5 separate regions of the Homo sapiens genome follow, and all the other regions are linked to region 5. The links come from fine-mapping of genetic effects on gene expression. A gene starts in region 5. Each other region holds a variant in brackets. All regions are shown on one strand. Distances are from middle to middle. Region 1 overlaps TPO (thyroid peroxidase). Region 2 overlaps SNTG2 (syntrophin gamma 2). Region 3 overlaps TPO (thyroid peroxidase). Region 4 overlaps TPO (thyroid peroxidase). Region 5 holds the start of TPO (thyroid peroxidase).

The links. PIP is the estimated chance that this variant, and not a neighbour inherited with it, causes the effect.
Region 1: its variant is the best candidate, but not a certain one, in a credible set for the expression of TPO in thyroid (GTEx, PIP 0.77).
Region 2: its variant is the best candidate, but not a certain one, in a credible set for the expression of TPO in tibial nerve (GTEx, PIP 0.51).
Region 3: its variant is the best candidate, but not a certain one, in a credible set for the expression of TPO in skeletal muscle (GTEx, PIP 0.82).
Region 4: its variant is the best candidate, but not a certain one, in a credible set for the expression of TPO in T cells (TOPMed, PIP 0.80).

Annotation. Positions count from the first base shown.
Region 1 is chr2:1,523,199-1,528,198 of GRCh38, forward strand. The region is part of intron 15 of TPO (thyroid peroxidase); the gene reads left to right. The region is part of intron 6 of LALTOP (lung cancer associated lncRNA targeting TOP2A); the gene reads right to left. Among named protein-coding and RNA genes, the nearest start is that of LALTOP, 100 kb to the right of the region's middle. The variant TC/T (reference allele first, on the strand shown) is at 2,105.
Region 2 is chr2:1,165,324-1,171,571 of GRCh38, forward strand. SNTG2 (syntrophin gamma 2) reads left to right here. Exons shown (of 17, transcript NM_018968.4): 7 at 225-312. Among named protein-coding and RNA genes, the nearest start is that of SNTG2-AS1, 220 kb to the left of the region's middle. The variant G/A (reference allele first, on the strand shown) is at 3,026.
Region 3 is chr2:1,480,410-1,485,409 of GRCh38, forward strand. It overlaps TPO (thyroid peroxidase), which reads left to right. Exons shown (of 17, transcript NM_001206744.2): 9 at 4,187-4,445. It overlaps LALTOP (lung cancer associated lncRNA targeting TOP2A), which reads right to left. Exons shown (of 7, transcript NR_198949.1): 7 at 4,493-5,000. Among named protein-coding and RNA genes, the nearest start is that of TPO, 69 kb to the left of the region's middle. The variant C/T (reference allele first, on the strand shown) is at 2,052.
Region 4 is chr2:1,492,642-1,497,641 of GRCh38, forward strand. It overlaps TPO (thyroid peroxidase), which reads left to right. Exons shown (of 17, transcript NM_001206744.2): 11 at 1,161-1,398; 12 at 3,348-3,556; 13 at 3,954-4,124. The region is part of intron 6 of LALTOP (lung cancer associated lncRNA targeting TOP2A); the gene reads right to left. Among named protein-coding and RNA genes, the nearest start is that of TPO, 82 kb to the left of the region's middle. RefSeq lists an enhancer at 3,346-3,981. The variant G/A (reference allele first, on the strand shown) is at 2,754.
Region 5 is chr2:1,409,184-1,415,425 of GRCh38, forward strand. TPO (thyroid peroxidase) reads left to right here and starts at 4,280. Exons shown (of 17, transcript NM_001206744.2): 1 at 4,280-4,362; 2 at 5,225-5,319. The coding sequence starts at 5,226.

The sequences.
Region 1 (5,000 bases), 110 kb after region 5:
TGCAACCTCCCAAATCCCCCCACTTTGAGCAACCTCCCCAAATCCCCCCACTGTGTAAAACCTCCCCAAATCCCCCCACTGTGAGCAACCTCCCCAAATCCCCCCACTGTGAGCAACCTCCCCAAATCCCCCCACTGTGTGCAACTTCCCTAAATCCCCCCACTGTGTTCAACCTCCCCAAATACCTCCCATTGTGTGCAAACACCCCAAATCCCTCCCACTCTGTGCAACCTCCCCAAATTACCCCCACTGTGTGCAACCTCCTCAGTTCCCTCCCACTCTATGCAAACTCCCCAAATCCCCCCGACTCTATGCAACCTCCCCAAATCCCCCCCACTCTGAGCAACCTCCCCAAATCCCCACCACTCTGTGCAACCTCCCCAAATCCCCCACACTGTGTGCAAACTCCTCAAATCCCCCTACTGTGAGCAACCTCCTCAAATCACCCCCCACTGTGTTCAACCTCCTCGAATCACCCCACTGTGTGCAGCCTCCCCAAATCCCCCCCACTGTGTGCAACCTCCTCAGGTCCCCCACTGTGTGCAACCCCCCCAAATACCGCCACTGTGTGCAACCTCTTCTAATCCCCTCACTGTGTGCAACCTCCCCAAATCCCCCCACTGTGAGCAAACTCCTCAAATCCCCCCAACTGTGTGTGAGCTCCCCAAATCCCCCCAGTGTGTACAACTTGCTTAAATCCCCCCAACTGTAATCAACCTCCCCAAATCCCCCCTACTGTGTGCAACCTTCCCAAATCCCCCCACTCTGTGCAACTTCCCCAAATCCCCCCTACTCTCTGCAAACTCACCAAATCCCCCCCACTCTGTGCAACCTTCCCAAATCCCCCCCATTGTGGGCAACAACACCAAATCCTGCCACTGTGTGCAACCTCACCAAATTCCCCCCACTCCGTGCAACCTCCCCAAATACCCCCAACTCTGTGCAACCTCCCAAAATCCCCCAAACTGTGTGCAACCTCCTCAAATCCCCATCCTGTGTGCAACCTCCTCAAATCCACCCCACTGTGTGCAACCTCCTCAAATCCCCCCACTGTGTGCAACCTCCTCAAATCTCCTCACAGTGAGCAACCTCCTCAAATCCCCACACTGTGTGCAACCACCCCAAATCCCCCTACTGTAAGCAACCTCCCCAAATCCCTCCACTCTGTTCAACCTCCCCAAATCCCCCCCACTCTGTGCAACCTCCAACTTTCCCTCCCATTGTGTGCAACCCCCCCAAATCCCCCCACTGTGTGCAACCCCCCAAATCCCACCCACTGTGTGCAACCTCCTCAAATCCTCCCACTGTGTGCAGCCTCCCCAAATCCCACCCACTGTGTGCAACCTCAGGTCCCCCACTGTGTGCAACCCCCCCAATCCCCCTACTGTGTGTAACCTCCTCAAATCCGCTCACTGTGTGCAACCTCCTCAAATCCCCCTACTGCCTGCAACCTCCTCAAATCCCCCCACTGTGGGCAACCTCCCCAAATCCCCCCACTGTGTGCAAACTCCCCACATTCCCCCCAGTGTGTGCAACCTTTACAACTCTACTCACTGTGAGCAACCTCCCCAAATCGCCCCACTATGAGCAGCCTCCTCAAATCCCCCAACTGTGTGCCACTTCCCCAAATCCCCACATTCTGAGCAACCTCCCCAAATCCCCCCACTGTGATGTAACCTCCTCAAATTGCCCGCACTGTACAACCTCCTCAAATCTCCCCCGCTGTGTGCAACCTCCTCAAATCCCGACTCTGTGCAACCTCCCCAAATCCCCCCAGTGTGTGCAACCTCCCCAAATCCACCCAACTCTGAGCAACCTCGCCAAATCCCCCAACTCTGTGCAACCTCCCCCTATCCCTCCCACTGTGTGCAACCCCCCCAAATCCCCCTACTGTGTGCAACCTGCTCAAATCCCCAAACTGTGTGCAACCTCCCCAAATCACCCTCACTGTGTGCAACCTCCTCAAGTCCCCCACTGTGTGCAATCCGCCCAAGTCCCCCCACTGTGCAACCTGCTCAAATCCCCTCACTGTGTGCAACCTCCCCAAATCCCTCACACTGGGTGCAACCTCCTCAAATCCCCTACTCTGTGGAACCTCCTCAAA[TC/T]CCCCCCACTGTGTGCCTCCTCAAATCCCCTCACTATGTGCAACTCCACCAAATCTCCCCCACTGTGAGCAAAACCACAAATCCCCCCAATGTGTGCAACTTCCTCAAATCCCCCCACTGTGTGCAACCTCCCCAAAACCCCCCACTGTTTGCAACACCCCCAAATTTCCCCCACTGTGAGCAAACCCCCAAAACCCCCACTGGGTACAACCTCCTCAAATCCCCCCACTGTGTGTAACCTCCCAAAATCCCCCCACTGTGTGCAAACCCCCCAAATCTCCCTATGACCAAAACCACAAATCCCCCCACTGTGTGCAACCTCCTCAAATCCCCCCAATGTGTGCAAGCCCCAAAATCCCACCCACTATGTGCAACCTCCCCCAAATCCCCCCGACTCTGTGCAAACTCCCCAAATCACCCCCACTCTGCAAACTCCCCAAATCTCACCCCACTGTGGGCAACCACACTAAATCCCGCCACTGTGTGCAACCTCACCAAATTTCCCCGTGTGCAACCTACCCAAATGCCCCCCACTCTGTGCAACCTCCCAAAATCCCCCACAATGTGTGCAAACTCCTCAAATCCCAATACTGTGTGCAACCTCCTCAAATCCCCCCACTGTGCGCAACCTCCTCATATCCCCCGACTGTTTACAACCTTCCCAAATCTCCCCACTGTGAGCAACCTCCCCAAATCCCCCACTGTGTGCAACCTCCCCAAATCCGCCCACTGTGTGCAACCTCCCCAAATCCCCCCACTGTGCGCAACCTCCCCAAATCCTCCCACTGTGCGCAACCTCCCCAAATCCCCCCGACTCTGTGCAACCTCCCCCATCCCTCCATGTGCAAACCTCCAAATCCCCCCACTGTGTGCAACCTCCTCAAATCCCCCCACTGTGTGCAACCTCCTCAAATCCCCCCGATGTGTGCAACACCCCCAAGTCCCCCCCACTGTGAGCAACCACCCCAGTCCCCCCACAGTGTGCAAACACCCCACATCTCCCCCACTGTGAGCAAAACCACAAATCCCCCCAGTGTGTGCAACCTCAATTCCCCCCACTGTGTGCAACCCCCCAAATGCCCCCCAATGTGAGCAACCCCCCCAAATCAACATGCTGTGTGAAACCTCAAATCCCCCAACTGTGTGCAACCTCCCCAAATCCCCTCCACTGTGTGCAACCTCAAGTCCGCCACTGTGTGCAACCCCCGCAAATCCTCCCAGTGTTCGCAACCTCCTCAAATCCTCTCACTGTGTGCAACCTTCTCAAATCCCACGCCACTGTGAGCAACCTCCACAAATCCCCCCAACTCTGTGCAACCTCCCCAAATCTCCCCAGTGTGTGCAACTTCCCTAAATCCCCCAAACTGTGTTCATCCTCCCCAAATCCCCCCCCCACTGTATGCAACCTCCCCAAATCCCACCTAATGTGTGCAACATCCTCAAATCCCCACCACTCTGTGCAACCTCCCCAAATCCCCCCCAATCTATGCAACCTCCCCAAATCCCCCCCAATCTATGCAACCTCCCCAAATCCTCCCCACTCTGTGCAACCTCCCCAAATCCCCTGCTTTGTGGGCAATGTCACAAAATCCCCCGGTGTGTGCAACCTCCCCAAATCCCCTCCACTCTGTGCAACCTCCACAAATCCCCCACACTCTGTGCAACCTACTCAAATCCCCACACTGTGTGCAACCTCCTCAAATCCCCCCCACTGTGTGCAACCTCCTCAAATCCCCCCACTGTGAGCAACCTCCTCAAATCCCCTCACTGTGTGCCACCTCCCCAAATCCCCCCACTTTCTGCAACCTCCGCAAATACCCCCACTGTGTGCAACCTCCTCAAATCCCCCCACTCTGTGCAACCTCCCCTATCCCTCCCACTGTGTGCAACCGCCCCAAATCCCCCAACTATATGCAACCTACTCAAATCCCCCCACTGTGTGCAACCTCCCCAAAACCCCCACTGTGAGCAACCTCCCCAAATCCCCTCACTGTGTAACCTCCCCAAATCCCCTCACTGTGTAACCTCCCAAAATACCCCCCGTGAGCAACCTCCCCAAATCCCCGCACTGTGTGCAACCACCCCAAATCCCCCCCACTGTGTGCAACCTCCTCAAATCCTCCGCCACTGTGAGCAACCTCCTCAAATACCCCACTGTGTGCAACCTCCTCAAATCCCCCCATCTGTGTGCGACCTCCCCAAATCCTCCCAGTGTGTGCAACTTCCCTAAATCCCTCCAACTGTGTTCAGCTTCCCCAAATACCAACTGTGTGCAACCTCCTCACATCCCCACCACTCTGTGCAACCTCTCCAAGTCACCCCTACTCTCTGCAGACTCCCCAAATCCCCCCCCAATCTGTGCAACCTCCCCAAATCCCACCCAATTGTGGGCAACCACACAAAATCCCGCCACTGTGTGCAACCTCACCAAATTTCTCCCACTCTGGGCAACCTCCCCAAATCCCCCCCACTCTGTGCAACCTCCCAAAATCCCACACACTGTATGCAACCTCCTCAAATCCCCATACTGTGTGCAACCTCCTCAAATCCCCCCCACTGTGTTCAACCTCCTCAAATCCCCCCACTGCGTGCAACCTCCTCAAATCCCCCCAATGTGAGCAACCTCCTCAAATCCCCCCACTGCGTGCAACCTCCTCAAATACCCCACTGCGTGCAACCTCCTCAAATCCCCCCAATGTGAGGAACCTCCTCAAATCCTCCCACTATGTGCAACCTCCTCAAATCTCCCCACTGTGTGCAACCCCCCCAGATCTCCCCCACTGTGAGCAAAAGCACAAATCCCCCACTGTGTGCAACATTCCTCAAATCCCCGCACTGTGTGCAACCCAACCAAATCTCACCCACTGTGAGCAAACCCCCACATCCCCCCACTGT
Region 2 (6,248 bases), 240 kb before region 5:
CTCATGCACTTGTTTACGCAGATAGAGTGTGGGGGGTAGGTGGTCTCGGAGGTGATAACCACTCTTCTTTACTCCAGCTGAAGCCCACAAAGTTTTCCGTGTTTCAGAGGTAACTATGAACTTTGAATTCTTGGGAAACAGGAGAGGTAGAGAGATTTTATTTTTTAATTCTGTGTCTGGTTCTTTTGTGGTGGTAAAAGTAGCTATTTTTGTCATATTGACAGGTGCATCTGCTGAGAAATGCTGGCGATGAAGTTACCATCACCGTTGAGTATCTCAGGGAAGCGCCGGCATTTCTGAAGCTCCCGTTAGGTAAGTGGGAAGAGGAGAAATGCCAGGGTGCTGGAGAAATTCCTTTCTTGCCACATTATTTATCCAAATGCTACCACATGGACTGGGATATTAATCATTTGCTGAGTGTACATTCAGAGAGAAGAAAAGTATAGGCAGGCACCGTGGCATCATGTAGTCCCATGACGTTGTATGTTTTAACACATCCACGGGCTTTTTTGAAGGAAGTGTTATCAGACCGTGCTTCTCGACTGTGCTTCTCGTCACTTAACTACATGCTCGTTCCTTCATGCAAACTCACCATGATTGTATTTATCTATATGTTAACGTAGAAGCAAAGTTTACACGTAAAATACCTATGTTGATCTGAGAAATTTTCAGTGCAAAAAATGAAAATAATGGTACATTTATGCTATGAAGTCCCTGACATATTTTGGCACAAAGCTTGTAATCCTCTATTATACTTGAATTGTGACCCAATATGAAAGTGATGAACCCTAAATCTAGAAAAATGTTTTAGTGAAGATAGTTGTTGTAACTTTTACTAATGTTATTCAGCTGTCATGGCTTTATAAAGGTTGGAGTCACCACCGTTCCTTTGATTTAGCAGAGGGCATCACTGCCCTCTCTTTGTGGGTAATCGGGAAAGGCCTCGAAGGCAAGGCCCAGGCTCCCCTGAAGTCAACATCTGCTGGTGGCTCAAACCCCAGGGCATCCGATGTGGAATGAGGACCTCCCGCTGAGCCGACAGTCGGGTTCCTTCTCATGGGGGCTGGTGGGCTGTCCTTCCTGTCACTCTCTCATGGGAAGGAACAGCTTCCCTCCCTGGGGGTTCATATTGACTGTTTTACTTTCTCTCTCTCTTCCATTGATGTCCCTATTGTCAATGCCTTCCTTCTCTCCTGCCCCGAGTGGCCCGGCTGTAGCTCTCAGGCACATCAGTAGTTGAGTTCTGATCATGCATTGGGTTTTTCACTGATACAGGAGGGGGGCAGGGAAGTGCTGGGAGGAGAAGGGCGGGTCCCTGGCGAGGGCTGCACCCCCAGGCCTGTGCCCATGGACCTAAGTGAGGACAGGCACTCCTGTTCTTGCACCCAAATGTTGCGTTTTCCAGTACCACCCTGGCCTACCACGCCCCCATCCTATGCCTATAACAACCCCAAGACCCTAGTGGGCAGAGACACAAGTGGCCGGATGTGGAGAAGAGCAGAGGAGCGGAAGAGTATGCTGACAGGCACCAGCAGACACTGGCAGGCTATCGACTGGCAGAATGATGTGGAGTTTGGCTGGGGTGGTTGGACGAGACTCCAGGAGAAAACCACCTTGCCACTCCATGCCCCTTCTGGCTCTCCATCCATCTTCTGAGAGCTACCAACACTCCATAAAACCTTGTGCCAACCCTCCAAGCTCACGTGGGATCTGATTCTTCTGGTATGCTAAGGCAAGAACCCCGGGATACAGAAAGCCTTCTGTCCTTGCGATAAGGCAGAGGGTCTAATTGAGCTGATTAACATAGGCCACCCACAGACAGCAGAACTGAAGCCTACAAGCCACCCACGGATGGCAGAACTGAAACCTACAGGCCGCCCACAGATGGCGGAACTGAAGCCTACAAGCCACCCACAGACGACAGAACTGAAACCAACAAGCCGCCCACAGACGGCAGAACTGAAGCCTAGAAGCCACCCACAGACGGCAGAACTGAAGCCTATAGGCCGCCCACAGACGGCAGAACTGAAGCCTACAGGCCGCCCACGGATGGCAGAACTGAAACCTACAGGCCGCCCACAGACGGCAGAACTGAAGCCTAGAAGCCGCCCACAGACGTCAGAACTGAAGCCTACAAGCCGCCCACAGACGGCAGAACTGAAGCCTAGAAGCCGCCCACAGACGGCAGAACTGAAACCTACAGGCCGCCCACAGACGGCAGAACTGAAACCTACAGGCCGCCCACAGACGGCAGAACTGAAGCCTAGAAGCCGCCCACAGACGGCAGAACTGAAGCCTACAAGCCGCCCACAGACGGCAGAACTGAAGCCTAGAAGCCGCCCACAGACGGCAGAACTGAAGCCTAGAAGCCGCCCACAGACGGCAGAACTGAAGCCTAGAAGCCGCCCACAGACGGCAGAACTGAAGCCTAGAAGCCGCCCACAGACGGCAGAACTGAAGCCTACAGGCCGCCCACAGACGGCAGAACTGAAGCCTACAGGCCGCCCACAGACGACAGAACTGAAGCCTACAGGCCGCCCACAGACGGCAGAACTGAAACCTACAGGCCGCCCACAGACGGCAGAACTGAAGCCTAGAAGCCGCCCACAGACGGCAGAACTGAAGCCTACAAGCCGCCCACAGACGGCAGAACTGAAGCCTACAGGCCGCCCACAGACGGCAGAACTGAAGCCTAGAAGCCGCCCACAGACGGCAGAACTGAAACCTACAGGCCGCCCACAGACGGCAGAACTGAAACCTACAGGCCGCCCACAGACGGCAGTACTGAAGCCTACAGGCCGCCCACAGACGGCAGAACTGAAACCTACAAGCCGCCCACAGATGGCAGAACTGAAGCCTAGAAGCTGCCCACAGACGGCAGAACTGAAGCCTACAGGCCGCCCACAGACGGCAGAACTGAAGCCTACAGGCCGCCCACAGACGGCAGAACTGAAGCCTAGAAGCCGCCCACAGACGGCAGAACTGAAGCCTACAGGCCGCCCACAGACGGCAGAACTAACAGAGC[G/A]CCCTGGAACACACTCCCACTAGGGCTTCAGGAGCTGGAAACATCCACCCCTAGATGCTGCCAGGGGTCAGAGCCCCAAAGCCGGCCCATCTCTATGGCACCCCCGCCAGAGGTTTGAGTAGTGGGGCACCGAAGAAGCGAGCCACTCCCCCATCACAAGCCCTGCAAGGGGAACAAGTGAACTTTTCCTGTTTCAGCATTTGATCAAAAGCATCATTAGACTCATAGCATGACTTCTGCTTTCATCTTCCTGAGCAACCAGGAACAAATCCATTTCAGCAACTCCATTTTTCCCATCGATCACAGCAGGATAACTATGCTATTCACAATCTTAGGAAAATCGATCTTCCTGCCATTGTAGCAAACCTGGATCAGTAAGATTCACTGCATGCCTTGCCATCCTCAGAGACCACTCCCTCTGCTAGAAGGAGCCACGGGAGCATGAATGAAGACCTAGAGGGTTCTTGAGGAAAAAGAGTAAGGGGTGCTGAGGGGCTGTGCATGAGAAAGGCGAATATTCCCAGGGCCGTAGAGGCAGAACATGTTAGCAATGGGGCAAAGGTTTAAGGGAGCGAAATGTCACACGCGGCACAGTGGTGCACCCCTGGGGTTTTGAGAAACGTTGCTGTGAGTTGGGAAGGGGGTGGACTTGAGGGCTGCACAGAAGTTCTTGGAGCCAGCAGGGAGACTCAGGTGTCAGACGCACATCAGGAGGCCCAGCAGTGAGCTCGGATGGGGGAGGAGGACTCACTTGTGAGGGGGCAGCGTGAGTGTCTGCAGATTCTGCAGCAGCTGTGACCATACAGGCTCACGAAGGAAGAAACTAAGACTTTTCATAGATTTTTGCCAGAAAGAAAAGAAGAGAAGATAGTGGCTTGGACAGGAGGAGGTGGCATTGATAAAGGAGGAGACAGACAGAAAGCAGGGGGTGCTTTCGGATGTTGCTAAGTGGGGGTGGGAGGCAGAGGACACTCACCCTGGGGCCGTTCCTGACTTCTCTCTCAGGCAAGGTGACTTCACAGGCCGAGTGAGATGGGTGCTGCGTCTAAGCCAGCTTCCCTGGGTGCCTTTGAAGGAGCAGAATTTAAGCAACAGCAGCAGCAACACTGCAACACCAGATGGCAGAGGAAGTGCCCCAGGTGGAGGTTTTCACCGTGAGCCCCTGCCTAGAGCCCCATAGCACTGAGCCTGTGTTTCCCTCTGAGGATGGGCAGCTCTTGCAATTCTAGTGCCTGAGCCTGTGGGGCCGGAGGCTGTCTCTGTTGAGATTCACATCCTGACTTCTGTCCGTGGGCTCCACTAAAACCTGCAGGCTCCGGGGTCCATTGCCAGTCACATAGTGACTTCAATGAGCGTTGCTGCCGGCATCCTGAGCGGGGCTGTGCTGACTCTGATGGCTCTGCCTGGACAGGCCCAGCTACACGGACCACCCCACACGTCCTCGGGCACATGCAGGAAAGGGCAGCCTGGGGTGCAGATCACAGAGGCCAGGGGTGCTGAGTCCCCATTAATTCAATAAGTGTCTATTCTCCTTTTATTTCATTCTTTACAGTGAAAAATGTTAAAATCTTAGTATCCATAACAATTTAAGCAAGACAGCCATAATCTCTCTATAAATTCAGGCGAAACGTCCTCTGCTGAATTCACACCGTGAAGGTAAAATTGCTGTGCCTGAGCAGACTTCACTTTCTGACTGCATGAAGCAGAAATCCACCGAGCAGCTCCAGTGAGTGGGGAAAGAGAGTATCACGGCAGATCTGTGCGGAAAATGTCCAGTTTCCACATTTTAAAACGTTTATCAAAGAGAAAATAAACAACCGTTTGAGACTGAGTCAAAGTAGGGTTTTATTTTTCACAAGTCAGGCTCTTGGTCTTTTTATAAAGATACAATTCATGCAACAGAAAATTCACCGTTTTAAAGTAACACTTCAGCAGTTTTAAATATTTCACTACGTTGTAGAGGCATTGCTACTGTCTAATTCCAAAACATTTCCCTCATCCCAAAAATAAACCCTGTGCCAGTTAGTCAGCCCGGACTCTCCCCACCCCAGCCCTCGGCAGCCGGGAATTTCCTTCCTGTCTCTTTGTGGGTAATCAGGAAGGGCCTTGAAGGCCAGGCCCAGGCTCCCCTGAAGTCAACATCTGCTGGTGGCTCAAACCCCGTGGCATCCGACCTGGAATGAGGATCTCCGTCTGCGCCGGACGTTTTCTGTAATGGAATCCCGCACAAAGATGCCTTTGTGTCTGGCATCTTCCCCCAGTGTAGTTTCAGAGTCCGCCCCCAATGTCGCGGGCATCGGTGCTGCATTCTCTTAGCTGAACAGCATCCGTCCTAGGGAATATATCTGTGTATACGGACCCATGTACATACCCTTTGTATGGGTTTTGTTTATCCATTCATCAGCTGATGGGCATTTGTCTTGCTTCTGTTTGGGGGATATTGTGAATTATACCACCATGAGCATCCGTGAATGCGTTTTTCTTGGGAGATGTTTTCCTTCCCACCGAGTGGATGCCGACTACTGGAATTGCTGGGTCCTCTGGTGACTCTAGGCTCAACTTTTTGAGTGGCTGCCAAATTATTTTCCACAGCAGCCGCACCATTTTACATTCCAACCAGCATTGCCTGAGGGTAATCTAAGCAGTTTTGATAGGTTAGGGTTAATTTTTTTTAAGATTAGGTGTTTTAATAAACATTGATCATATACTACATGTTTTCTAATATGATTGTTTATTTTTGACACCTAATAAAAATAAACTAAGTCTATTTTTCTCATTAAGAATTCTTGATATTGGGTTTTAAAAAATAATGGACTTTTATTTGTGATAGAAGAAAGATATAACTATTCACATTTCTGTTCTGGGATATGGATGACAAGATACCTATTCATCAGAAATAAATTTATAGAAATTTAGAGTGGAAGCGTGACTGTCAAATGTAAATTTATTGACTATTTACCTGTTAGCTCATTCAGTCAATGGTGGCTTGGATCTGCTGCCATTAGTCATGTGTCTCCTTTGTCTATAGCATGAACTTTGGGATTTTGGAAGACTGCAGTCATTAAAAATATTTTGATTTTCCTCTCCAATTACTGATAAGGTGATTACGGGTATAAAATAACAGGCATTGGGAAAGAATTTCAAATAGATAACAGTGAAATGTGCTTCTGAACGCTAAAGGGCAGATTCAGGTGCTGTCTCAACAACCCTGTGAAACGCTCTG
Region 3 (5,000 bases), 71 kb after region 5:
TCTCTCCCTGGTTCTACCGACTCGTAGTTTGGTAACTTTGTAATCTGAATCTCTCTTCTTCTGAAAAACATTAGATAATGAAAAGAGATGCCAGGGCAACCTTATGAAAGAGAAATAGCATCCCCCCCTCTATCACCCCTCAAACCCCCTACACACACACACACACACACACACACACACACACACACACACACACGAGCCAGCCAGGGCCAGGCTAATGCACACATCAGCAAGAGACAGGAAAGGTCATCTCAGAGCCGGGAGTCACAGCTTTCTCCTCCATCTGTCCACACCACCTCCCTCCTCCTTCATCCGTCCAAACCATGTTTCTCCTGCTGCATCCGTCCACACCACCTCCCTCCTCCTGCATCCGTCCACACCACCTTCCTCCTGCTGCATCCGTCCACACCACGTCCCTGCTGCTGCGTCTGTCCTCACCATACCCACTCTAATTTGTCAGGGCCCAACCACAGCCGCCCCCACTCTGAGGATCTTGGCTCCTCTAATTTCTTTTGTCGAAAGCTGAGAGCTATCCCCTCCCTCAGCCCTGGGCCACAGGACTTCTGCTGTGGGCATGTTTGGGAGGGATCTGCAGGGCCGCCCTCTGTGCTGGTTCCTGGGATCCGGCATCTCTCGGGGGACTCGCACGTAGGAAGGGCTGATAAAGTTGCTCTTGCTGGCTTGAGATCCCACAGGACCCTGGATCCATAAGCCCTGCTTCCCACCAGGAGGAACTGAAGCTCTTGCTCTTCAATCCCAGAAAACCCTAGCTGCTTTAGGTGTGTCATAAGACAAGAACTCACAATCAGTTGCTCACTTTGGTGATAACTTTTGTGTTCTACAGACAAGAAAAGAATGAGAAAGGAAACCCTTCCCAGCACAGGTGTGAGGGAGGCAGAGAGGAGGTAGCCATCCTCGGGGAGTCTGGGTGTGCCATCCAGGCAGCATGGAGTTTGGGTTCCACAGGGTGAAAAGATAAAGACATCCCAAATATCTGGCGTGGATGTTTTCTATGCCCCGGCCATCAGATAGCAGACCTATTTCTGGAGCACAGCCTTGATTTCCCCAGATATCCAGGGACCCACAGAAGCTTTGCTTTGGATGTGTGTGGAGGTAGAACCAGACCCCGGAGGGACTGCAGATCTCCCTGGACATCCCCATCCCGGGCAGGCAGATCCATGTCTCGGGGCAGGGGCTGCATCCCTGGGCCACTCGGCTGCTGACCTTTGCTGTAGCTGAGTACTTTTTCAGATTGGTTGCTCTTCCAGAGCAAAGGAGCAGATGGATAAAGTCATGCTTCCAAGGCTGGAAAGAAAGAGAAAGGGCCGTTCCTGCAGTGGGTGCTGTTGCTGCCCCACCCAGGCCCCTTTATCTGCAGGGCCCCATCCCCCAGTGGCCTCCAATGTTGGCTGACAAAGTCTCCTGGTCGTTCCTCTCCAGGGGTAGCTGTGGAGGCTGTTCCCTGCCCTGCAGGGACAGCCAGGCCCCTACCTCAAGGCTGGACCAAGCCCAGGTGCGCCATGCTGCAGGGCTTCCTGCGGAGGAGCACAAGCCAGGCCTGGCTGTGTCACGTCCTTGGGGAGCTGGGTGCCTGCTCAGCCTCCTCCCTGGAGCACCCTCAGCAAGCATATGGGAGCCTCTTATTGGACTAATAGGGCATGTTTGAGAAAATGCTGAGTGATGTTCTGCGTAGAGCAGGGTAGGTGACTTTGAAAGCAGTCGAGAGTCAGAAAGTTCAGAGGAGCCTGTGCCAGGGGCTACGCGGCTGTTTCCCACCGTCGGTGACAAGGATCGCATCTCCAGGTCTCTTCGTCCTGGTCTCCCCGTGTGCTGGGGTCCTGGCTTCCCGTCACCTTCACGCCCATCATTTTCCCAAGTGTGGACCTTTCAGTCATTCCCACTGGTGAGTTGTGAAGGCAAAGAAATGGAGAGTGGCCACAAGTCAGCACCTGGTGGCTTTGGCAGAGGCTGTGGGGAACCAGGAGGCTGGGGTGAGAGCAGACGTGGAGGAGCAGCTTGAAGCAGCCTGGGAAGATGAGGCCTCTACATGG[C/T]ACCGCCAGCAGAGGAAGAAGACATGGCCCACCTGGGAGGTGAGCAGGAGGGGCACCTGACAGCGACGATGCCCCGGTCTCACAGTATGGCGTCTGCCCAGGTCCAATAGTTCAGAGTAACCATTTCCCCCATGCGACCAGGTAAAGAAATACCAGAAGCATTTCCAGAAGAATTGCCATGAAAATTCCAGAGAGCTGTTTACAAGGTTCAAGTGTTTTCTTTTTCTCTTTTTGAGAAAGCATCTCCTCTATCACCTAGGCGGAAGTGCGGTGGTACAATCATAGCTCACTGCAGCCTCAACCTCCTGGGCTCAAGCAATCCTCCACCTCAGCCACCCAAGTAGCTGGGACTACAGGTGTACACCACCACACCTGGCTAATTTTTAATTTTTTAAATTTTTTTGTAGAAACAGAGTCTGACTGTGTTGCCCAGGCTGGTCTTGATCTTGGGCTCAAGCAATCCTCCCACTTTGGCCTCCCAAAGTGCTGGGATTACAGGCGCAAGCCACTGCGCCTGACTCAAGATTCAAGTTTTAAGGCCCCATTGGTCAGAACAATGGGTGCTTCTGCCCAACCTCGACGGCTCCCAGGGGAGGCTGCAGTATCTGAGCCAATCACTTACCAGGGATGTTTCAGATCAGATGAGGAGGCAGTGGGGAAGAGGAGAGACACACTGTTCAGAGCTCTGGCAAGATCAGACACTGAGGAAGTACAGTGTCTGTGAGGCTCTGATGAAGGGCGCAGGTTTCCTCTCTGTTAACAGCTAGCCGGGCACAGGTGGAGCTGCTGAACCTGAGGCTCAGGCCTCAGTTCTCTGCCTGTGCTTGCTGCATCCCCTGGCTCACAAGTCAAACTTCAGGCAGGCAAGAAGGGGAAGAGGTGTCTTCCTTAAAATAGCTTGCACTTGAATTTGAAATTGTCTCAGTCCCTGGGCTAAAAAGAGAGAGGCCTTTTCCTTTCTATTGTAGTGAGAAGAAACCAAAGAATGTTCCAGGGAACAGAAGGTGCTGCCTGAGTTCTGAATGTGGGAAGCACACGGACCTTCTCACGCGGTTAGGAGGAGCCCCTTGGACACCTGTGTGGTTCAGAAACGTTGCCACATAAATTGCACCTGAGGTGGAGAGGCTGTTTGCACGATGAAGTCGTGCAACTGCTCTCTGGGATGCTGACCCATAGCACAGTGCTTGGCACCAATGGATGAACTAGCACAGGGACGGAAACCCCACTGGGAAACATTTGGATGCTGCCTTTTCCTCCTTGTCTGTCCAGGTCTCCGAGGTGGAGCGGGACAGCGAGGGCAGGTGCACCTTCAGTGAAGGCCCAGGCCACACAAGACTCACGGCTCTCCCTGGTCTCCCTGAAGGGCCAAATTACGTGCTTAGGAAATGCATTCTGGCACATGGAAGAAACATATTACAAGTGTGTAAATAATATTGGTTATTTTTAAACAATCCACTTGCCTTCCTAAACTGGTAAGCTAAAAGAGAAGATTCATATTCTAGAATTATTCCTATTATGCTTCATTTGGATGCAGTTTATTGACCAAAATATTCCCCTTAAATACCAAAACAACTTGACACTGATTTTTCTGTCTGAAAGAAACACTGTTAAACCTGAAAGTAGAATCTTGGTACATAATTCTCCTGGGACCATGTATCAAATCGTAATTTCCAGGCCCTGTGATTGCAACTGTAATTTTCCATCGACAGAGCTCTCTGCCATACAACATGCTTTGATTTAATCCTCACAAAGGCTCTGGGAATTAGGTATTATTGTTGCTTTGTAGAAAAAGGAACTGCTCCCCACTGTCAATCATCCAGCCAGGAGTCTAGCTGCCCAGCCTGGCCCGGTGGCCATTGTTGGCTCGACAGAGGTGCTGTCTCTTGCCACTGCCAGCCCCATCACCATCCTGGGAAGGAGGCTCTCTAGTCAGCCCTATAAACGCACCTCCTGAATATCCATGAAAAAATCAGCAAGAAGGCATTTCTGGGAAGTTCAGCTGAGGCCCTTATTACAAGACGAGAAGGGTCCAGTTCCCTGGGGCTGTCAAGGAAGATGCTCTTCCACACTGCCGCTCGAGGCGACCCTCCTCTGGTATCCTGGGCCTCACTGAGATGCTTTTCCTATCTGCACAGATCATCACCCTGAGGGATTACATCCCCAGGATCCTGGGACCCGAGGCCTTCCAGCAGTACGTGGGTCCCTATGAAGGCTATGACTCCACCGCCAACCCCACTGTGTCCAACGTGTTCTCCACAGCCGCCTTCCGCTTCGGCCATGCCACGATCCACCCGCTGGTGAGGAGGCTGGACGCCAGCTTCCAGGAGCACCCCGACCTGCCCGGGCTGTGGCTGCACCAGGCTTTCTTCAGCCCATGGACATTACTCCGTGGAGGTGAGTGAGTGCGGTCCCTGCAGCTGGTCCCCATGAACTCTTCCTTCTTTTTTTAATTTTTTTAAATTATATTTTAAGTTCTAGGGTACATGTGCACAACGTGCAGGTTTGTTACGTAGGGTATACATGTGCCATGTTGGTTTGCTGTACCCATTAACTCGTAATTTACATTAGGTATTTCTCCTAATGCTATCCCTCCCCCTGACCCCCACCCCACGACAGACGGGATATGATGATCCCCGCCCTGTGTCCATGTGTTCTCATTGTTCAATTCCCACCTATGAGTGAGAACATGCGGTGTTTGGTTTTCTGTCCTTGCGATAGTTTGCTCAGAATGATGGTTTCCAGCTGCATCCATGTCCCTGAAAAGGACATGAACTCATCGTTTTTTTATGGCTGCATAGTATTCCTTGGTGTATATGTGCCACATTTTCTTAATCCAGTCTAGCACTGATGGACATTTGGGTTGGTTCCAAGTCTTTGCTATTTTAAATAGTGCTGCAATAAACATACGTGTGCATGTGTCTTTATAGCAGCATGATTTATAGTCCCTTG
Region 4 (5,000 bases), 83 kb after region 5:
TGAGACACCAAGAGGCCCAACCTTCTGTCCCATGAAAGCCTCACTGTCCCTGGGGGGAACCAGCCCAGTGCTCACATGTTGCTGTGCGTGTGCTTGTCCAGGACTTCTGCTGGGAGCCTGTGGTGGGCAGGGCGCTGAGAGTAGAACCAGACAGTCTTAGCTAAAGCACCACACAGGGCGGGTGGATGAGTAGAGACAGTAGCAGAGGCCCTGGGCGGCGCTCTGATCAGAACCCGTGGGAGTGAGGGTCGCCCATCCTTGAGGAGGGAGCACTTCTGGAGGAGGTGACAGCTGAACCAAGAGGAGTGGATGAGGGACGAAGGCAGATGTGAGGAGTGGGGCACAGGGAGGGGCACGAGTGTCAGGCAAAGGCGCAGCCACAGAGTCAGACCATGGACGGGGGCCTGGGCAGGGAGCAGCTGAGGCGTGGGTCAGTGAGCAGGAGGAGGAGTGAGAAGAGAGGCCAGGGATTCACCAGGGCTCCCAGGAAGAAAAGATCTCCAGTCTTCAATATGGAGATGAGTGGCCAGACAGATAAAGATATTTGTGTGTGTGTGTGTGAGTGGGTGGGGGGGGGGGTGCTGGCTTCTGTGTGTGCTCCTGATGTCATTGTGGGAGGCAAACTCTGAAGAGGATGCAGAGCTGTGTCAGTTGCCCTGTAGAGGCAAGAACTAAGTGCAGGCTGGGCAATAACAGGAATGCACTTAGATGTCACGGACTCAGCATTCTTGCTGTCTCCAGCTCCTTTATGAACAAACCTGCAAAAAGAGCTCTGGCGTCCGAGCTGGAACATTCTAGCCTGGCAAACTGCCGGGCAGTGTCACAGGGTGGGACAGGACTCTGCCCGGCATCTGAGCTGGAATATCCTAGCCTGGCAAACTGCTGGGCAGTGTCACAGGGTGGGACAGGACTCTGCCCGGCATCCGAGCTGGAATATCCTAGCCTGGCAAACTGCCGGGCAGTGTCACAGGGTGGGACAGGACTCTGCCGGGCGTCGGAGCTGGAATATCCTAGCCTGGCAAACTGCCAGGCAGTGTCACAGGGTGGGACAGGACTCTGCCCTGCTGCGCTTCCAGTCTCGGGGACCATGGCATGAGTGAGATGGGCTGAACAAAAGTTCAGTTCTGTGAGAGAAACCCTGCAGCCTCTCCCCTGTGCAGGTTACAATGAGTGGAGGGAGTTCTGCGGCCTGCCTCGCCTGGAGACCCCCGCTGACCTGAGCACAGCCATCGCCAGCAGGAGCGTGGCCGACAAGATCCTGGACTTGTACAAGCATCCTGACAACATCGATGTCTGGCTGGGAGGCTTAGCTGAAAACTTCCTCCCCAGGGCTCGGACAGGGCCCCTGTTTGCCTGTCTCATTGGGAAGCAGATGAAGGCTCTGCGGGACGGTGACTGGTACGTTCCTATCCAGAGCGTCTTCCTTCACGTTCTGCACAGAGGCAGGTGGTCTGCGTTGGTTCTGAAGCCAGCCAGACCTGCATTCACATTCCGGCTCCACCATTCAACTCTTACGTAAGCCTGGTCAGGTTGTTTCTCCCACCCACAGCTTCTTTAACCTAGAACAGTGTTTTTATAACAATGAAGCAACTACGAAGCACGTAGCACTTAGAATGGGAGCTAGCACTGATTTTTCCTAGATCCAACCACACGAGCAAGCAGGCACCTAACTAAACAAATTGTGACACAATCGTGACAGCCCGGAGACTGCATCCCATCCCTCACGTCCCATGACAATGCCCGGGAAAGCGCAGAGGTGGACAGTGACTCAGGCGCAGACACAGGCCATGCCCGGTGCTCATGGATGCCTCTAGGCTGGACAGGACTTCCCGGCCCCCCAGACCCCACCTACAGATAGCAGATGGTTGCCGGTAGCAGAAAGCTGAGGTCCCGCTTTGCCTGCCTCATGCATGTCTGCTCCCTCCTCAAGTTCAACCTAGAATTTGGAGGTTTGTACTGGAGGGAGTCAGAGGCAGATCCTGTTCCCATCTGACTCTGAGTGCATGCCCCCCGTAGAAGCAGGTGCGCAGGATACCAGTGTTAGGATTTTGGAACAACACAGACAAAAGCAATAGGAAAATGTTTTCTTTTGCTTTTAAATACATCCCTACCTATCCAATTCTCTCTCTATTTTTGGTAGTCACTGTGCCGAGGTCAGATTTTTGTTGTAAAGGATCTGTGTTCTTCCCAGAGAGTGCACCTGCCACACGCTGGGGCTCCTGTCCTTTCCCCAGTGTGACTTTTATCTCTAATTTCTGAGATGCAGCCTTTCAAAGAGCTACGAACACCTGGGTAGAAATCACCAGGAGAACTTGTCTCCCTTATAGCTGTGTCTTCAGCAAACGTGCGGTTTGGAATTCTCTGGGACATGGGAAGCCACTCGCTCAGAAGGGGGAAGATTTCACCAGCTTGCCCCATACGTGTGTCTCCCATGCGTGTTTTATGCCACCTGTGGCTGAAGCGCCATCTGAAATCAGTGCAGAGGCAGCTGGCAGGTTCCTAGGGTGGTGCCCCCAATTTCTCATCCTATGTATTTATGACCACATATCTCCCCAATGCAAAAATGGGATCAATTAACTTACGTATAGTGGGGCCTCTTTTTCATGTTCTAAGAGGAATTCATCCCTGTGATGGGAAGCAGAAGAGTTTTACGTGGCAGGGGAGATGCACATGGGAGATGCATGCTTTACGGCATTCAGGCCAGGAGCTATTGGGGCTTTGGCAACTATTTTCATATTTTGAGAGGAAAGTGG[G/A]ACTTCATTTCTTCACATTGCAATTTTTCTGATTAATCATGGCCTGGAGGAAGAAGCTGAAGGTAGAGAGACTGTGCAGGGCACGTTGACTTCAGAATAGGAGCACCCTCTAAAATAGCTGGATTTGCTGTCATCATTCTTGTTTTTAACACAGCAATACACCCCAGATAACAGCAATGCAGCAAAATAGATGCTCATAGTCAACAAGCAAAGTGGCTCTGAGCCCCTCTTCTGAGGCCGCTCGTTCAGACAGCCAGGTGCACGCTGTGCTGCCCCTCCACATCTCCTTCGGGTCCTCAGTACCTGCACCTGAGTGGTCCCGGGTGCTCAGGGGTCTGGGCAGACGCCACAGGGTCTCCTTCAGGTCCTCAGTGCCTGCACCTGAGTGGTCCCGGGTGCTGGGGGTCTGGGCAGACGCCACAGGGTCTCCTTCAGGTCCTCAGCGCCTGCACCTGTGTGGCCCCGGGTGCTGGGGGTCTGGGCAGACGCCGCAGGAGAGGCTGGCAGCACACAGCTGTGGGCAGCTGGTCTTGAGTGCCTGCCCTGGGGGTTCTCCATGCACTGTGACCTTACTCACTGTCTCCTTCTCTGGAGGTTTTGGTGGGAGAACAGCCACGTCTTCACGGATGCACAGAGGCGTGAGCTGGAGAAGCACTCCCTGTCTCGGGTCATCTGTGACAACACTGGCCTCACCAGGGTGCCCATGGATGCCTTCCAAGTCGGCAAATTCCCCGAAGACTTTGAGTCTTGTGACAGCATCACTGGCATGAACCTGGAGGCCTGGAGGGAAACCTTTCCTCAAGGTGAAGTTCGGTCTCCTCTCACACCACGTTACAGCACGTGCATCTCATCAAACAAAGCTTATCTTCCCCAGGAGCTGATTTTAACTTTTCACTGTTTAGAAAATAGTGTCAACGCCCTGCCTTACACCCTCAGGGCAGCTCCTGGGGCGGGGCGGGGCGGGGCGGGGCCCTTCTCTAGTGAGAAAGGAACTGGAGGCCTAGAGAAAGGGAGCCCGCGGGGCCCGATCTGGGAAGAGGCCGTGTGTGCTGCGTGGGTGCTCAGTGAGTGACCACAGCAGGGCTCCCCGGCCCTGGCACCAGCCCCTCCAGGGCACAAGCGCACCCGTGACAGGGACGTTGGTGTGTGGTTTTCTTTTCTCGTAGTTTGACTACATGTCAACCTGTCCACATTTCATAGACGACAAGTGTGGCTTCCCAGAGAGCGTGGAGAATGGGGACTTTGTGCACTGTGAGGAGTCTGGGAGGCGCGTGCTGGTGTATTCCTGCCGGCACGGGTATGAGCTCCAAGGCCGGGAGCAGCTCACTTGCACCCAGGAAGGATGGGATTTCCAGCCTCCCCTCTGCAAAGGTCAGTCCTTTCTTCAATGACAATTACAAAACATCTGAATGTTTCCGATATAAGTTAACAATGCAATGTCATTGAAAATTTCTTCGCCAAAAGGTGCTTCTGAAACTGTTATCTTCCCAGGAGCAATCTGGGGATAGAAAGCAAGGGCTCTCCCCTTGGCTGGCCATGTTCCCAGCTGGCCTTTTTCTAGGTAGTGAGGCCTCAGGACAGGCACGTGGAATCGTGACCAATGGGGTCACCGGTGAGGGAAGAGAGAGGGGAGTCCGTGAGTTCCAGGCAAAGTTGTGGTGAACTCGCAGGGGCGCTTTCTCAAAGGGAACACAGCAGCAAACGTCTCCACTCCAGGAACCCATAGAGTAAGGCTCGCCTCCACCTCCACCTCCTACAGGTGGCTGATTCCCAAGCCCATGCCTGGTCCTCCTCCAGCCACTGGGTTCCACTCCCAGCCTCCCGCATGTTTAGGTGTGGACAAGTGTGGCTTCCTGGCGGTAATTTGAGAGCAGGATGGGGAGGCACCTTTCAGGCCGCAAGGCAAGACAGCCGTGGGCCACTTCCACCTGCTCCTCCCATGTGCTGGCTTGAGCGGGTGTCAGCCCAGGGCACCTGGGAGCAGGTGTGCTGGACAACAGAGCCTCCCGGGGGGAGAGCCGTGTACTGGGGTTCCTCTGCGGGGAACAGCAGAATGAGAGTCCCCATCTGACTGTTCTGAGGCAGAGCCCTCTGGGTGCGACTCCTGAGGCTGGGGCTTCCTGTCAGAGCAGCTTGCGTCCTCCAACTACTTCAGAACTGCCCTGCCACAAAACCTGGACCGCTGGTTCTGGTCTCATGGGACAGTGGCGTCAGGGCAGGCAGGAGCAGGAATGGCTGCTGTTCTGG
Region 5 (6,242 bases):
GTCCCCAGATTCCAGACTCCTACCTCCTACTCAGAAAAACTGGAGCCATTAAAATGGTTACTGCTGAATGTGGAGCTTTTTGTGGTGTGAGAGAGCCCCATGTTTATTTCCTGAATTTCAATTAACAAAAACCCTCCTGTATTTGTCTTTAGTTTTATCTGACTCATATAAACTGGGAAATTACCTACCTGAGTTTGAACAAAGCTGAATAATTTTTCAAATTTTACAGGGGAATTTAATTAAGTTTGAATGACAGCATTTTATTTTCCAAATTTGTTTTAAAATGAATTGAGCTGTAATAAGAGTTGGAAGATAACACAGAGCTCCCAAACCTCCTTCACCCACCTGCTCAGTGTTAACTCTATGCACGGCCACAGCACAGCAACCAGGACCAGGGAGTGGACGTGGATCCAATGCTGGTGATTACATCTCAGAGCTCACCCTGGTATCCCCAGCTTTTCCATCTGCATCCTTTCCTCTTCCAGGATCCAGTCCTGGCACTGTGCAGCCCACGGCCGTCGGGGGTCATCAGGTCCCTGAGTCTCCTCTCATCCATGTTCATCTCTTAAAAAATAAACTTACAAATTTAAAAATACAAAAAACAGTGCGCGCACACACACACACACATGCACGTGCACATACACACACAAGCCAGGCACCAAAAGACAAACACCTCATGATCTCCCTCCTATATGGAATCTAAAAGTGTCGAGCTCATGGAAGCAGAGAGTGGATGGTGGACACCTAGGGTTACGGGGCAGGTGCGGTGGGGGGCAGGTGTGGTGGGGGCTGGTGCCATGGGGGGGACAGGTGCCGTGAGGGGCAGAAAGATGCTGGTCAAAAGTGAGGGTTTCAGTTGCAGGATAAAAATGTTCTGGGATCTAATGTATAGCTTGATGACTATTGTTTATTTGAAAATCGCTAGGAGAATAGATATTAAATGTTCCTATCACACACACAAAAGGATGAATACGTGAGGTGCTGTATATGTTAATTAGCTTGATTTAATCACCCCACAGTGTTTACATGTATGAAAACATCATGTGAACATAAATATGTATAATTTGTATTTGTTAATGATAGCTTGATGAAGCTGGGGGCGAGGAAAACAAAAACTAAAAAGTGAATGGCAAGTAAAAAAGGCAACATCAGGCTGTAGTTTGAAGAACACAAGGCAGTCAGGCCCTGGCCACATGTCAGGTGAGTCAAGTGTGAGCCCACCCTGGATCCCTTTTCTGTTACAGTCACAGGCAAGGGCCTATTACAGGTGGTCCTGGGCCTCGGTTAGGGAGAGCCTCTTGTCTGTGGACAGAACACACGATGTCTGCAGGGAGAAAGGTGGCCTTTCTATGGAGACATCAAGCAAAATGTGTGATTTGCTGTTTCTCATGCATTGATCAAGGTATTCAGTAATCAGATTTCCCCAGGATATCAAATAGTTCATTGGCACTTGCCAAAAAATGGAAGCGTGCTTGTCTTCTCGGTGGGCCCGGGACTGGACCGCAGGGCTGGTGCCACTCCTTCACTGAGACCTGCTTGTAGCAGGGCCCTGCATTCCCCCATCCTGCCATGTGTGAGTTGGCTTCTTACTGTATCATGCGTTCCTTGCAGATTTCTGTCTTCTTTGGAGCTCCTTGATTTTTCTCATAATGGGAGAAGACGTGTATTTTTTTCTTTCCTTCTCATGGCTAAAACTGTCCTCTTTCTCACTGAGTCTCCCCTGCAATCTCTCTGCTCTCCATTGCTGGGTGGCCACGTCTTCCCAATGCTCCTTTCTGACAGAGACTGGGGGCTTCAGCCAGATCTTTAGTTGCCTCTCTTTCATTCTCCCATTATGTGATAGCCTCGGGTTTTCCACGTCCCCCTGCAGAAATCTTCCTTCCCAAGTCCCCCGTCTTCTTTCTCAAAAATGTGTGTGCTATCCAGTGGGCCTCCTGCAAACCCGCCATTCTCAGACTTTTCTCCGCTCCCCTCTCAACATTTCCAGTGTAACAGCTTCCATTGTACTTGATGCATTATTTATATTGTTTAATTAGTATTAAAATAAGCACATCATGTAATCCAGCTAAAATATGTATTTTCAAATGATAGATACATTTCTCATATTTGTGCGGGGTCAAATGGTAACAGCAACTTAGAGGAGAGGCTACAAAACGACCTGGAGAGTTGATGTGCCGGCTCGGCCTCCCCCAGCTGTGCATGCAAACCCCCTCTTCCCAGGTCTCCATCGGCACTCGGCATTTTCAAGCGTCCTTCTGTGATGAAAAGAGCATCCAGTCAGTATTTACTTTACATTTTAATGCTTTCTTCTTCAAACTCTTCCTTGAGTATTTGCCCCACGCTGTCTCATTTTACCACCCACCTTTCTGGCTGTGTGAATTTCCTGCGAATGCCTTAACAAAGGGCCACGTGCTTAGTGGCTTTACTCCATCAGCTCCGGAGGTCATAGATCCAAATGAGACTTTTGGCAGCAAGGTCCAGGGACAGGCCTGGTTGTGCCTGGAGACCCCAGAGGCCCTGCTCCTGGCCTCCTCCAGTTTCTGGAGGCTCATGGCCACGGCCCTCCAGTCTCAGTTTCCATCATCACTTCCCCCTTTCTCCCCTCAGACTTTCCCACCTTTGTCTTGTAAGGAGCTGTGTGCTAACACTAAGGCCAGTGGATAATCCAGGCTAATCTCCCCTCCTCAAAATCTTAACTGAATCCCATCTGCAAAGCCCCTTTTGCCATGCAGGTTGCAGTCACAGGCTGGGGGACTGTGTCCCCTAGACGCTGGTGCTCTGAGCTACTCTTGAGGTCTTTTCCATCCACATTCTCCCAAGAAGAATCCCATTCACTCACAGTCCACTACTGTATCCCCCCTCAGGACTCCCAAATGTGTCTTTTTAAGCTGGACTTCACCCAACAGCTGAAAGTACATTTCCAAATGCCCAAGAGCTCACTGCCCGCCTGTGCCACGGGCACCTCCAACACAATTCCAAGCCTGAGTCTGCTGCTCCTTTGCTTGTCACAGCCAGTCTCCTTTCTTCTCTGGCCTTCCTAGGGCCAGTACATGAGATTTTCACTTGCTTAGGCATCAAACCGAGGATGGCTGAATCCTCAGAGGCTCTGTGCTTTTCTTCTGTTCCCAACAGTAACTCATCATTGAGCCATGGAATCCTCTTTAATGAGCCACCGAGTCTGGTCCTTCCTCTCTATCCAAACCCCACCCTCCTAGTGACCATTCTCAGGGTGCGTGGGGGGATTATATCACTGTTGGCTGATCTCCTCCCTGCTCTTCAGAGCTTGTCTAACTCATTTGTTATCTTCACCCATTTGAGGGGTGAGTGATGAGGATTGAGGGGAGAATGTTAAAGGCAAATCATCACATTCTTGGGCTTCAGAACATCTTCTAACAAAGATTAATGTTCTGAAGCCTTTGCATCGTGTTTTAGCATTTGGTTTCAAATTACCTAGAGGAAGCATCAGTCACATTTGGAGAAGGGAAAGAAAAGGAGAAAGATGAAGATGATTTTCACAAACTAGAAACCCATAGGACTTCCGGGGGCATGAAGAGGCTCCAAGTCTCAGGAGCAGGTCATTGAAGATGTGTTATTTTATCATTTTCATGATGAGATACAGCCTGAAAGCAGATCACCCATGAAAACATGTCATCTCCCAGTGTTCGGAATGCAGTCATGGTGACCTTCCTACAGAACATCTCTGTCTTTGTGGGGACTCTTTTGATGGGTGCATGATGAGGATTGAGGGGAGAATGCATGCTGGTGAACACACACTGAACTGTGCTCATTTTTCACCTCAACAAATTGGAAAAAAGTGTACTTTATTCACCTCTTAGTGATAAGAAAACTAGGGGCTTGGGGACAGGAAGCAAAAGGCTCAGAGTTGTAGAGCGAGTCATCGGTGGGCCTGGGAGCTGCACCCAACCCAATCCTCGGAAGATTAACAGCCCCTTTTTCACAGGGTATTTAACTGTGAAAGTAAGAGGGAGGAAAATGCAAGTGTCACAAGTCTGGATTTAGTTGGTTTATTCTTTCTCCCTGTATAATTTTTCCCCTCTTCTTCCTAACTCATTCGGCCAGAGGCTGGACTGCATGTGGACCCCGATGACATGGCACTTTGTTTCTGACCAGTCAGGACACACAAGAGGCCCGGCGCAAACACAACAAAGCCCGCAGACATTCTGTCCCCACGAAGAACGGACGCCACTCGACTTCCTAGCATCTTGACGGGCTATCCAAGCGCGGAGTCAGTTTATAAGGTGGGTAACCAAGTCCCTGGAAGGCAATTAAGGCGCCCATTTCAGAAGAGTTACAGCCGTGAAAATTACTCAGCAGTGCAGTTGGCTGAGAAGAGGAAAAAAGGTCAGGTTGTAAAGCTTTTTATTTTTCCATTTTCTAAGAGAAATTCATCATTGGAACTTGTAAAGTGGCCCAAGAGTGGCTGTAATTTGGGCCATTATAGCAGGTATGGGTGGCGTCTCTCAGCAAAGCTGACTGACTGACTGATGAGTGCTGTTTGCAATGACCTCCGCTGGAACATGTGAGTCCTGTAGGGTCGATTCCTAGATCACCGTCTACTGAGACACATTCCTGTCAGCATGGACTCACTGGTGCTATCCTGCTTAACAAAATTAGTGGCTCAAAAATAGCCACAGAAAGCCTAAGAGAAGAAAACAAGGATTTGAAAGTAGAAATGATGAATTTTGAATCTTCTGTTTTGTCTTAACAACTAGAATTCTAAAATCATTTTATGGACATAAGAATGCTTTAAGAAATTCAATAGGCATTTAGGGGTTTTATTTATCACTTTTATAAAGACTAAATTTCTAATAGTACTCACTTTTTGCCACATAGATGCATTAGGGGAAACAGATTTTTTTCATTCCCAATAATTATTCCCAGTACTGTTACACTATTTGACATTACCAAAAATTTAAATAGGTTATTACTGAGATATATTGGCAACTGGAGCTGCCAACATAAAAACTCTGTTTTTGAATAATGGGGGCCTGGGAGGCCTGCTCAGCGCTGCAGTTTCTGTAACCTCCTGACATGGACGGCGACTCTGGTCTCGCAGACCCCAGGCCTGTGAGGGTCGCTCACTGCGGTAGAGGCTGCGTGGAGTCAGTGGAGGGAGCCCCTCAGCAGGGAGACAAGGACACAGCGGTTCCCATGGCCTTGTCAGTGCTTGATTACATACTCTGTCTCCTTCCGTTAATTTTAGAATGAGAGCGCTCGCTGTGCTGTCTGTCACGCTGGTTATGGCCTGCACAGAAGCCTTCTTCCCCTTCATCTCGAGAGGGAAAGAACTCCTTTGGGGTAAGTAGCAAACACATTGCGGTCTTCTGGCCTTATAAAGTTATTTTTCACACTTACTAAAATAGAGGGCATAATGGTAGCTCCTGAGAGTCACTTTAGGCCCCTGTAGTGTATGCTTTGTTATGCTTAAGAAAAAAAAATTGTAATTCTTGATTTTAGAAGGATTGAAATATGTACATTTCTTTCTTTAAAAAAGAGCTGATTTTCCTTGGATGACACAATAGACAATTTTCACTTTTACCTATTCATATAACTGAAAAAAAAATTCTTTGGGAGTGTTTTTCTTCCTTTGCTACAGAATTATTTTTTATTAAATAACTTCTGTGATGTATTTTCTGGAATCAGTGTGCTACTATGTGAAAACAAGTTAAGAAAGCTACTGAGATGCAGTGGTTAAAATAATCACAGATCAAGCTCTTTGCTTTTCTTTTAATAAAATAAATAAAGTTCCAAACCCTGAGAACAAGTTTCACTGGAGTGAATACTGCAGGGGCATTTGCCTGGACATTTTACCCCATGGACACCGCTGGCCCCGGGAGCAGGTGACACCTCGCTGGGCAGGTCCCTGGGCCTCTGCACACAGTCCCGGGGCCCCTGGAGCAGGTGACACCTCGCCGGGCAGGTCCCTGGGCCTCTGGACACAGTCCCAGGGCCCCTGGAGCAGGTGACACCTCGCCGGGCAGGTCCCTGGGCCTCTGCACACAGTCCCGGGGCCCCTGGAGCAGGTGACACCTCACCGGGCAGGTCCCTGGGCCTCTGGACACAGTCCCGGGGCCCCTGGAGCAGGTGACACCTCACTGGGCAGGTCCCTGGGCCTCTGCACACAGTCCCGGGGCCCCTGGAGCAGGTGACACTTCGCCGGGCAGGTCCCTGGGCCTCTGGACACAGTCTCGGGGCCCCTGGAGCAGGTGACAGCTCACCGG